Homo sapiens: one gene and its partner. The protein of the gene in region 2 purifies or fractionates together with the protein of the main gene of each other region. This does not show direct contact. Each region holds a gene or a part of one and is shown on either strand. Other genes may lie near its edges.

Region 1 (3,749 bases), on a different chromosome or scaffold from region 2:
CATCCTGTGCTCGCACCCGTAGGGTGTACTCCTTGGTCGTCTCATAGTCAAGAGGGCTCACCACATCCAGAGCTCCAGTCTGGGCATCCAGATAAAACTGTCCCCGAGCATTGCCACTCATGATGCTATAGTGCACCACGGCATTGCTCCCCTTGTCTCGATCCGAGGCTGTGACTCGGAGTACTGGGGCCCCTGGAGTCACATCCTCCCTCACCTGGACCACATAGCGCTTCTCACTAAACTGGGGGGCATTATCATTGTCATCCTCCACAGAAAGGAAAACAGCGGCTGTGGTACTCCGAGGACCCGGGTCCCGACCCTGGTCACTTGCCTCTACCGTCAGCTGGTAGGATTCCACCTCTTCCCGATCCACAGGGCCACGGGTTCGGATCACCCCAGAGCGAGGGTCGATCTCAAAGACTTCAGAGGGGCTGCCCCCAGACCCCTCCAGCAGGCGGTACAGAATATTGGCATTGGGAGGGGCATCACCATCCGTGGCCCTGACAGTGAGCACCTCATAGCCAACCTCCAGGTTCTCCCTGAGGCTCTCCTTGTACTCCTGCTGCTCGAACACAGGGTCATGGTCATTGGTGTCAGTAACCAAGATGGTGAGTGTAGCCAGGGCACTTCGTCGGGGCATGCCGTGGTCCTGCGCCGTGACCCTGAAGACGTGGGTGCTCTTGGTCTCACGATCCAGCTCCTCGGCTGTGGTTACTGCACCAGTGACTGGGTCCAGGGAGAAGAACTGGTTGGAGCGGCTATCAAAGAGGGCATCCATGGTGTACTCCAGTCGACCTGCCTCACCCTCGTCCGGGTCGATGGCCCTCAGGGATGCAACAGGGGTGCCTGCTGGCTGGTTCTCCGGCACTGTGGCCTGGTAGCTGGGGGGCTGGAACTGGGGGGCTGTATTTACATTCCTTTTCCGACGCCCACCCAGGGACTCTTCTGGTGACCTTTCCCCTGCCCTGAGCCCGGGGGCCTGTGCCAGCTTGCAGGACTGGCATCTGAGCCGTGGAGCCTTTAAGCACGGGTGCTCCTCGGGCAGTGTGAGCTTGCCCTGTGGGGAAAGGTGGCCTCCAATGCCCAGGAGGCGACAGCTCCAGGGGCAGCCTTCAGGAGCTGGTGGTAGGGGAATATGGGCCTCGGATTCTGGACACCAAACCCTCAGGCCATCGTGGTGGGGTACCAGGTGGCCAGTCAGCTCAGTGCCCGCATCCCTGCAGCGGCTGGTGTAGAGCCAGAGGTTCGACGCTGAGGATGGACAGAGCCAGCCCATGGGGGCGCAGGCCCCCGAAGAGCCTCGTCCCCTGGACCCCAAGGAACGACAGGGCCCCACTTGGTCTCCCAATAGTGGCGGCGGCAGCAGCAGCAGCAACAGCAGCAGCAGCGGCGGCGGCGGCGTTGGGAGGGGGACGCCGGTGGCCGGGCTCCGCATCTCTCCCAGCTCCCGGCCGGCGGCCGGGTCAACGGCGGCGGCGGCTCCTCCTCCGGCTCCTGCCGGCCCCGCCGCGCCTCATGCCCGGGCCAGGGCGCCAGTCCCCGGGGGCCTCCCGTGCGCCCCGCGGGGCCTGCGTCTGGATGGCTCGGCGGGACCCCGCGCTGCACCCTCCGACGAGCCCGGGCTCCCACTGCCCCCTGAGCCAGACCCGCTCCCGGGTCACCCTGAGCACCGCGGGCTGCCGCCGCGCCTCCACCTGCGCTCCGGGCACTCACCACCTGCGCCCGGGGGCCCCGCGGCGCCCCTGGCCTTGCCGGGCCCCGGGTTCCGGAGCCGGGGTGCCCCCTCCGCCCCTATGGGATCGCCCACCTGCGCCCGCGTAGCCGTGCGCCCCGACCCCGGCCCGGCCCCGGCGGCCCCCGACGGTCCCGCGCCGCCCGCTCGCGCCCCGCGTCCCCGCCGCGGCTGCTGCCTGTCGCCGCGGCCCCGGGCCCAGCCCCGCGCTCCCTCGCCTCCCCGGCGGGCGGGCGAGCTCTGCAGAGTCGCGGCGGCGGCTCATTACCATAGACCTGCTCGCGCCGCGGCCGCCTTAAAGCGGCAACGCCGGCCGCGCTGGAGGAGGTGGGCCCCACCCAGAGCACTCCTCCGCCCAAAGCGCCAGGATTCCCTCCAGCAGGACCCTCCATCCCAATTTCCCCAGGCCGGCCTCGCCAGATGCCCGGTGCGAATTAGCGATCGGAAGCCACACAGCCGATGATAATCATGGTGGAAGTACCCTAAGTATGCCTAGAGGTTTCCAAAACATTTTAAGGGCTCTCAGAGGCCAAGTTTCCAGTTCATTCCAGTCATAAAAGCCCTCGTTGCTGTCCCCTCCCATAGGTCAGACAGAGTTAAAAGGGCCCTGAGCAACACAACAAAGCCTCCAAAATCCCAGAGAAGCACCCACAATGAGTCACCGGGCCCACTCGCTCCCTACCGTCCCCTCCACCCCACCAGCGAGGCTGTTGTCTGACCAGCATGCCCCTTGGGGTCGGGCTGTTGGAAGAATGACCCCAGCCTCATGTTGGACACCACTTGGGCTTTTCCAGGGAAGTAAATTAGAAGGGTCAGAGTGGGTGGAAGCCAGGTGGTGCAAACACACTGTCACCAGATTCGGAGGCCGGCTGCGGTGGAGCCTAGCTTTAACACAGGCTTCCTGGATTCTAGACAAGGGGCTTACACTGCCCCCTGAGGTCCTGTCTAGAGAGGCGGCCTCTCATCCCCTCCTGCCTCCCTGTCCATGTCCTGCGGCTACCCCCTCCTTCCGCCACAGTTTTGTGACCAGCGAGGAGGCCTACCTGGTACCCGGGCTCCTGACCCTCTCCAAGGCAGCTTCATTTGAGAGGGTGTGCAGGATTCCAGGGGTTCTCCAAGAGGACCAGACATGAAGCTGGACCACACGGAGAGCCAGGCAGGAGCCGTGCAGGCGACCCAGAAAAGGCTTCCCTACATCCTGGAGCAGCCAGGGGCCCAGTCAGGTAGTCCCTGGGGGGATGCCCTGGCCTGGGGGGATGCCTGGGCCTGGGTCCCAGCCTCCAACACCACAGCTATGTGACCTTGCTCAAATTCTGTGCCTCAATGTCCCTTTTTGTAAAATGAGGGGATTGAATAAGGTGAATGGTTCTCAAATGTTTATTTAGCAGTAGAATTCTTTTCTTCAAAAGAAATCTGAAGTGGAAGGCCAGAATATAGAACAGATGAGTAGTGCTGCTGGGTTGAAGTGAGGGGGTCAGGGCCTTGCCCCTCTCCACCACTCCCCCAACCAAGAAATCCCTGGGCTGCTCTGTGCAACTTGAGGGTCTGGAGGAACCCATCTGAAAAGCACTGGATCAGGTGCTCCCTTCTACCACTGCCCCCGGTCACAGTGGTGCCACTCTCACTGGGTCACAGCAGAGGATCCCCCAGCCCCAGGCCCAAGGAGTGTCTGTGTGACCACACAGTGAGGCCAAGGATGAGAAATCAGCTTTTCTCTTTTCCCCTGGGGAAACAGGAAAGGAGATGGGCCTTGGGTACAGCAAGAAAGATTAGGGTTAGACTGTGCTCCTGGCAGGATGGATAGAAGTAGGAGGAGGACCCATGGCTCAAGGAAATGCCCTCCCCTTTGACCAAACAGGAGCTTTCTTCCTCTGAGCAAGGCCAAGGGCAGCTCTGGAGATGGAGGCGTGGGTTACACGCCTCCGCAGGGCTCTGCCTCTCTAGACTTCCTCAGACTCTGGAGTTTGGAAGGATCTAGGGGCTGCGTGGGCATTTTGTTCTTCACCTAATAGCCATG
Region 2 (3,749 bases):
CATATTTTGGGTGAGATTCCTTCCTTGGGCCTGAGACCCCTGATGAAGATATTTTCAAAAATAACAGCAAAAAAACTTAATTAAACAGATTGTTAAAGGAGCACAAAAGAAACAAAGAAAAAACTGATAGATTTAACTACAAAAAATTCACAATGTCTACGTGAAAATGTATTAACCCACAAAGAAAACCCCACATGAATTAACAAATGTAGTAAGGGTTCTCTTACATGCGGCCAAATATCATTCCTAACTATAATACACACTCTCACATCTGTAATCCCAGCATTTTGGGAGGCTGATGCACAACATAAGTGGTAGAAAAAGGGCTTAATAGCTTTAATTTATAATGAAATTAAATTTATTTATTGTGATAGTCACTAGTAGTTGCTTCTTCGTATTATTTTCTCCCTTATTAAAATAATTCAAATTATATTCAAGGTAGCAATGTGTCCAGCTACTAATATTACATTCACTAATGACCCAATCTATCCAAGAAGATGTAACTAGAAGTCCTTGGATGGGGCTTCTAGAGATACTCTTTAAAGGGGACAAACTTAGCAGGCATAGGTTTTTGTCCTTTTTTCCTGCCTAGAAAATAACTGTTGAAGGTAGGACAAGCATCATGTGACTACTAGGCAACAAACATGAAGATTAAAGCCAAATACAAAAGATGATGGACAGAAAGAAAAGAAAACTTGTCCCTGAATTCTTTTTCAAGCTGCATTCCCAGTCAGGACTGCCCACCTCAGCATTTCTGATTTACAGGAGAAAAAGAAAACCCCATGTGAATTAACCACTGCAGTAAGGGCTCTCTTACATGCAGGCAAATATAATTCCTTACTGTAATATACACCCCCACATCTGTAATCCCAGCATTTTGGGAGGCTGATGCAGGAGGATTGCTTGAGCCCAGCAGTTTGAGACCAGCCCAGGCAACATGGCAAGACCCTGTTTCTATTAAAAAAAAAAAAAGAAAATAGAAAAAATTAGCCAGACATGGTGGTGTGCACCTGTGGTCCCAGCTACTCGGGAGGCTGAGGCAGGAGGATCGCTTGAGCCTGGGAGGTCAAGGCGGCAGTGAGCCACGATCATACCACTGCACTCCAGCCTTGGTGACAGAATGAGAAACTTTCTTCTTCCTCTTTTTTTTTTTTTTTTTTTTTGAGATGGAGTCTTGTTCTGTCACCCAGGCTGGAGTGCAGTGGCACAATCTCAGCTCACTGCAACCTCCGCCTCCTGGGTTCAAGTGATTCTTCTGCCTCAGCCTCCCAAGTAGCTGGGACTATAGGTGCATGCCACCATGCCCAGCTTATTTTTGTATTTTTAGTAGAGACGGGGTTTCACCATATTGGCCAGGCTGGTCTCGAACTCCTGACCTCGTGATCCACCTGCCTCGGCCTCCCAAAGTGCTGGGATTACAGGTGTGAGCCACCGCATCCGGCCCAGAATAGAAATGAAAGAAAAGAAAGAAAAGGAAGGAAGGGAAAGGAAGGGAAAGGGAAGGGAAAAGGAAGGAAGCGAGGGAGGGAGGGAGGCAGGGAGGGAGGAAGGGAGGAAGGGAGGAAGGAAGGAGAGAGATAGAAAGAAAAAAGGTAAATATCTTGGAAAGGCTCTGCACAATATTATTGTAGAAAACTCCTTATGCATGTTCCCGTAATTTATTTTAATGAGGAAAATAAGAGAGGGAATGCTAAAATAACTATATATGACTTTACGTACTTTACAGAGTCACCACAGTGGACTGTATTCTGAAACACTGAACCCAGGAAACATACCTAGGATGACATACAGACCAAGACAACTGAAGATTCTATTGATATTTTATGACATTTATTATATTCTTGTAAACAGAAGAAAACTCATATTCTTATGGTCAAAAGATTCCAACTTTTACATCCTGAAGATAAGATTCTATCAATTTACTGAGGTAATGAAGAGAATGAATTTTGGAAACAGGCAGATCTGGATTAGATCCCTACTCCATCTCTGTTGGTACTCCCTACAGCTGTTCACAAATAGGCCAGCCTCCTTCCTGATACATGAGCAGATTGGCATTTTCTATCCCTTTTCAAATTTAGGCACAGCCATATAACTTGCTTTGGTTAATGAAATGTGAGTACAACTAATACGTGTCACCTTAGGGCAGAAGCATTAAAAGTGGTATAGGATACACCACCTTCCTTGCTCCTTCCTTGATGAAAGTGGGATGAATTATCTAGATAGTTCCTCCATCAGGTTGGGTGCCTGAGTGACTGCAAATCAGCAGAGGTCCTCAGGGTAATCCCACTGGACAAACAGCATGAGAGATGCATAAACTTTTGTCATCTTATCTGATTTCAACTTCAGAGTTTTAAAGTTGTAGCCTATCCTAGTAAATCCTTTTTGCTGCATGTGAAAAGTGACAGTTTTCAAGGAACCATTACTACCAACTGCAGATATTGGGTAGAGCCAAAACATTCAGGTTATAGCAGGAGGTTTTGCCACATCTATCTTTAAAAATTCCTATGATAAAACTTCGTAAGTAGAAAAGGTTCTGTAATAAAAAAGAACCCCAAGCTAAAGGCTTCCAAGGTATGAAAAGTCCTGGTAAATACTGTAGTAGCTAATGAAAGCCACTATCTTTTAGTTCAGACTTTCTTTTGCCAATCTACAGGCAAAAATTAGAGAGGAAAAGAGGGGCAAGAGGATTAACTCTTTTTGAGTGCCTGTGTTGACAACTGTGGCGATTACTCATTATTATCTCAGTTCTTGAAATACTATGAGGTAACATTTTGTATATTACAGATAAGAACACAAGTACAAAAAATTATGTGGTCTGCCCACTTGCAAAAAGTGATGATAATAAGTTGTAATTCAAAACTACTTCAAAATCCACATTGTGCTACTTTCATGTAGCCATGCTTTCAGGTGCTTGAAAAACTGCTCTAGAATAAAGAGTGAGGATGAGACAACAGATTAACAAAGCTATTCTGTGCCAAGTTCTTTATTTTGAGGAACCCTGCCTCTATAGAATGAAGCCAAGTGAAAATTTACTCTTCTCTGGCAGGCACAGTAGCTCAGACCTGTAATTCCAACATTTTGGCAGGCGAAGGCAGGTGGATCGCTTAAATCCCCTAGGAGTTCAAGACCAATCTGGGCAACTTGAGACTCCCCCCGCCTCTCCCATCTCTACAAAAAATACAAAAATTAGCTGGGCATGGTGGTATGCACCTGTAGTCCCAGCTACTTGGGAGGCTGAGGTGGGAGGATCACTTAAACCCAGGAGGCAGAAGTTGCAGTGAATCAAGATCATGCCACTGCACTCCAGCCTGGGTGACAGAGCAAGACTCTGTTGGAAAAGAAAAAGAAAAAAGAAAAAGAAAAGTGAAGGAAAGTGAAGCAAAGAAAAGAGGAAAAAGAAAAAGAAAATTTACTATTCTCCCCCACCATCTTAAGGTTTTATTAGAATGCCCCTGATAAAAGGTTATTGGGAAAAAGTGTATGTCATCACTTTCCTCCCCAGGAGGGAAAGAAAACACCTATGTTTAGGGCAGACTGATACTGCATTTCACAAAGATGCTAATTTATTATCGCAACTAGATGCTAATTTTTTTCTCATAACTAGATTTGAAAAGGCTGGATGTGGGGTTCCCCCACTAAGAAAACAGCTTTCACTATAAATTGTGGCTGGAAGCAATTTTTGCCATCTGTAATAATAAGCAACTTGAGATGTTTTATTATGTATTTCTTCTGCTCACTCTCCCACCATG

Evidence for each region. The genes of interacting proteins can lie anywhere in the genome.
Region 1: the proteins of DTWD2 (region 2) and CELSR2 purify together in Homo sapiens (affinity purification with mass spectrometry; 3 studies listed by BioGRID and IntAct, with this or other methods). This does not show direct contact.

Annotation. Positions count from the first base shown.
Region 1 is NC_000001.11:109,247,766-109,251,514, reverse strand, and holds the start of CELSR2 (cadherin EGF LAG seven-pass G-type receptor 2 precursor), read right to left. Parts: upstream 1,977-3,749; 5' UTR 1,436-1,976; coding exon 1-1,435. UniProt on the Homo sapiens protein: Receptor that may have an important role in cell/cell signaling during nervous system formation.
Region 2 is NC_000005.10:118,841,812-118,845,560, forward strand, and holds part of DTWD2 (tRNA-uridine aminocarboxypropyltransferase 2), read right to left. Parts: intron 1-3,749.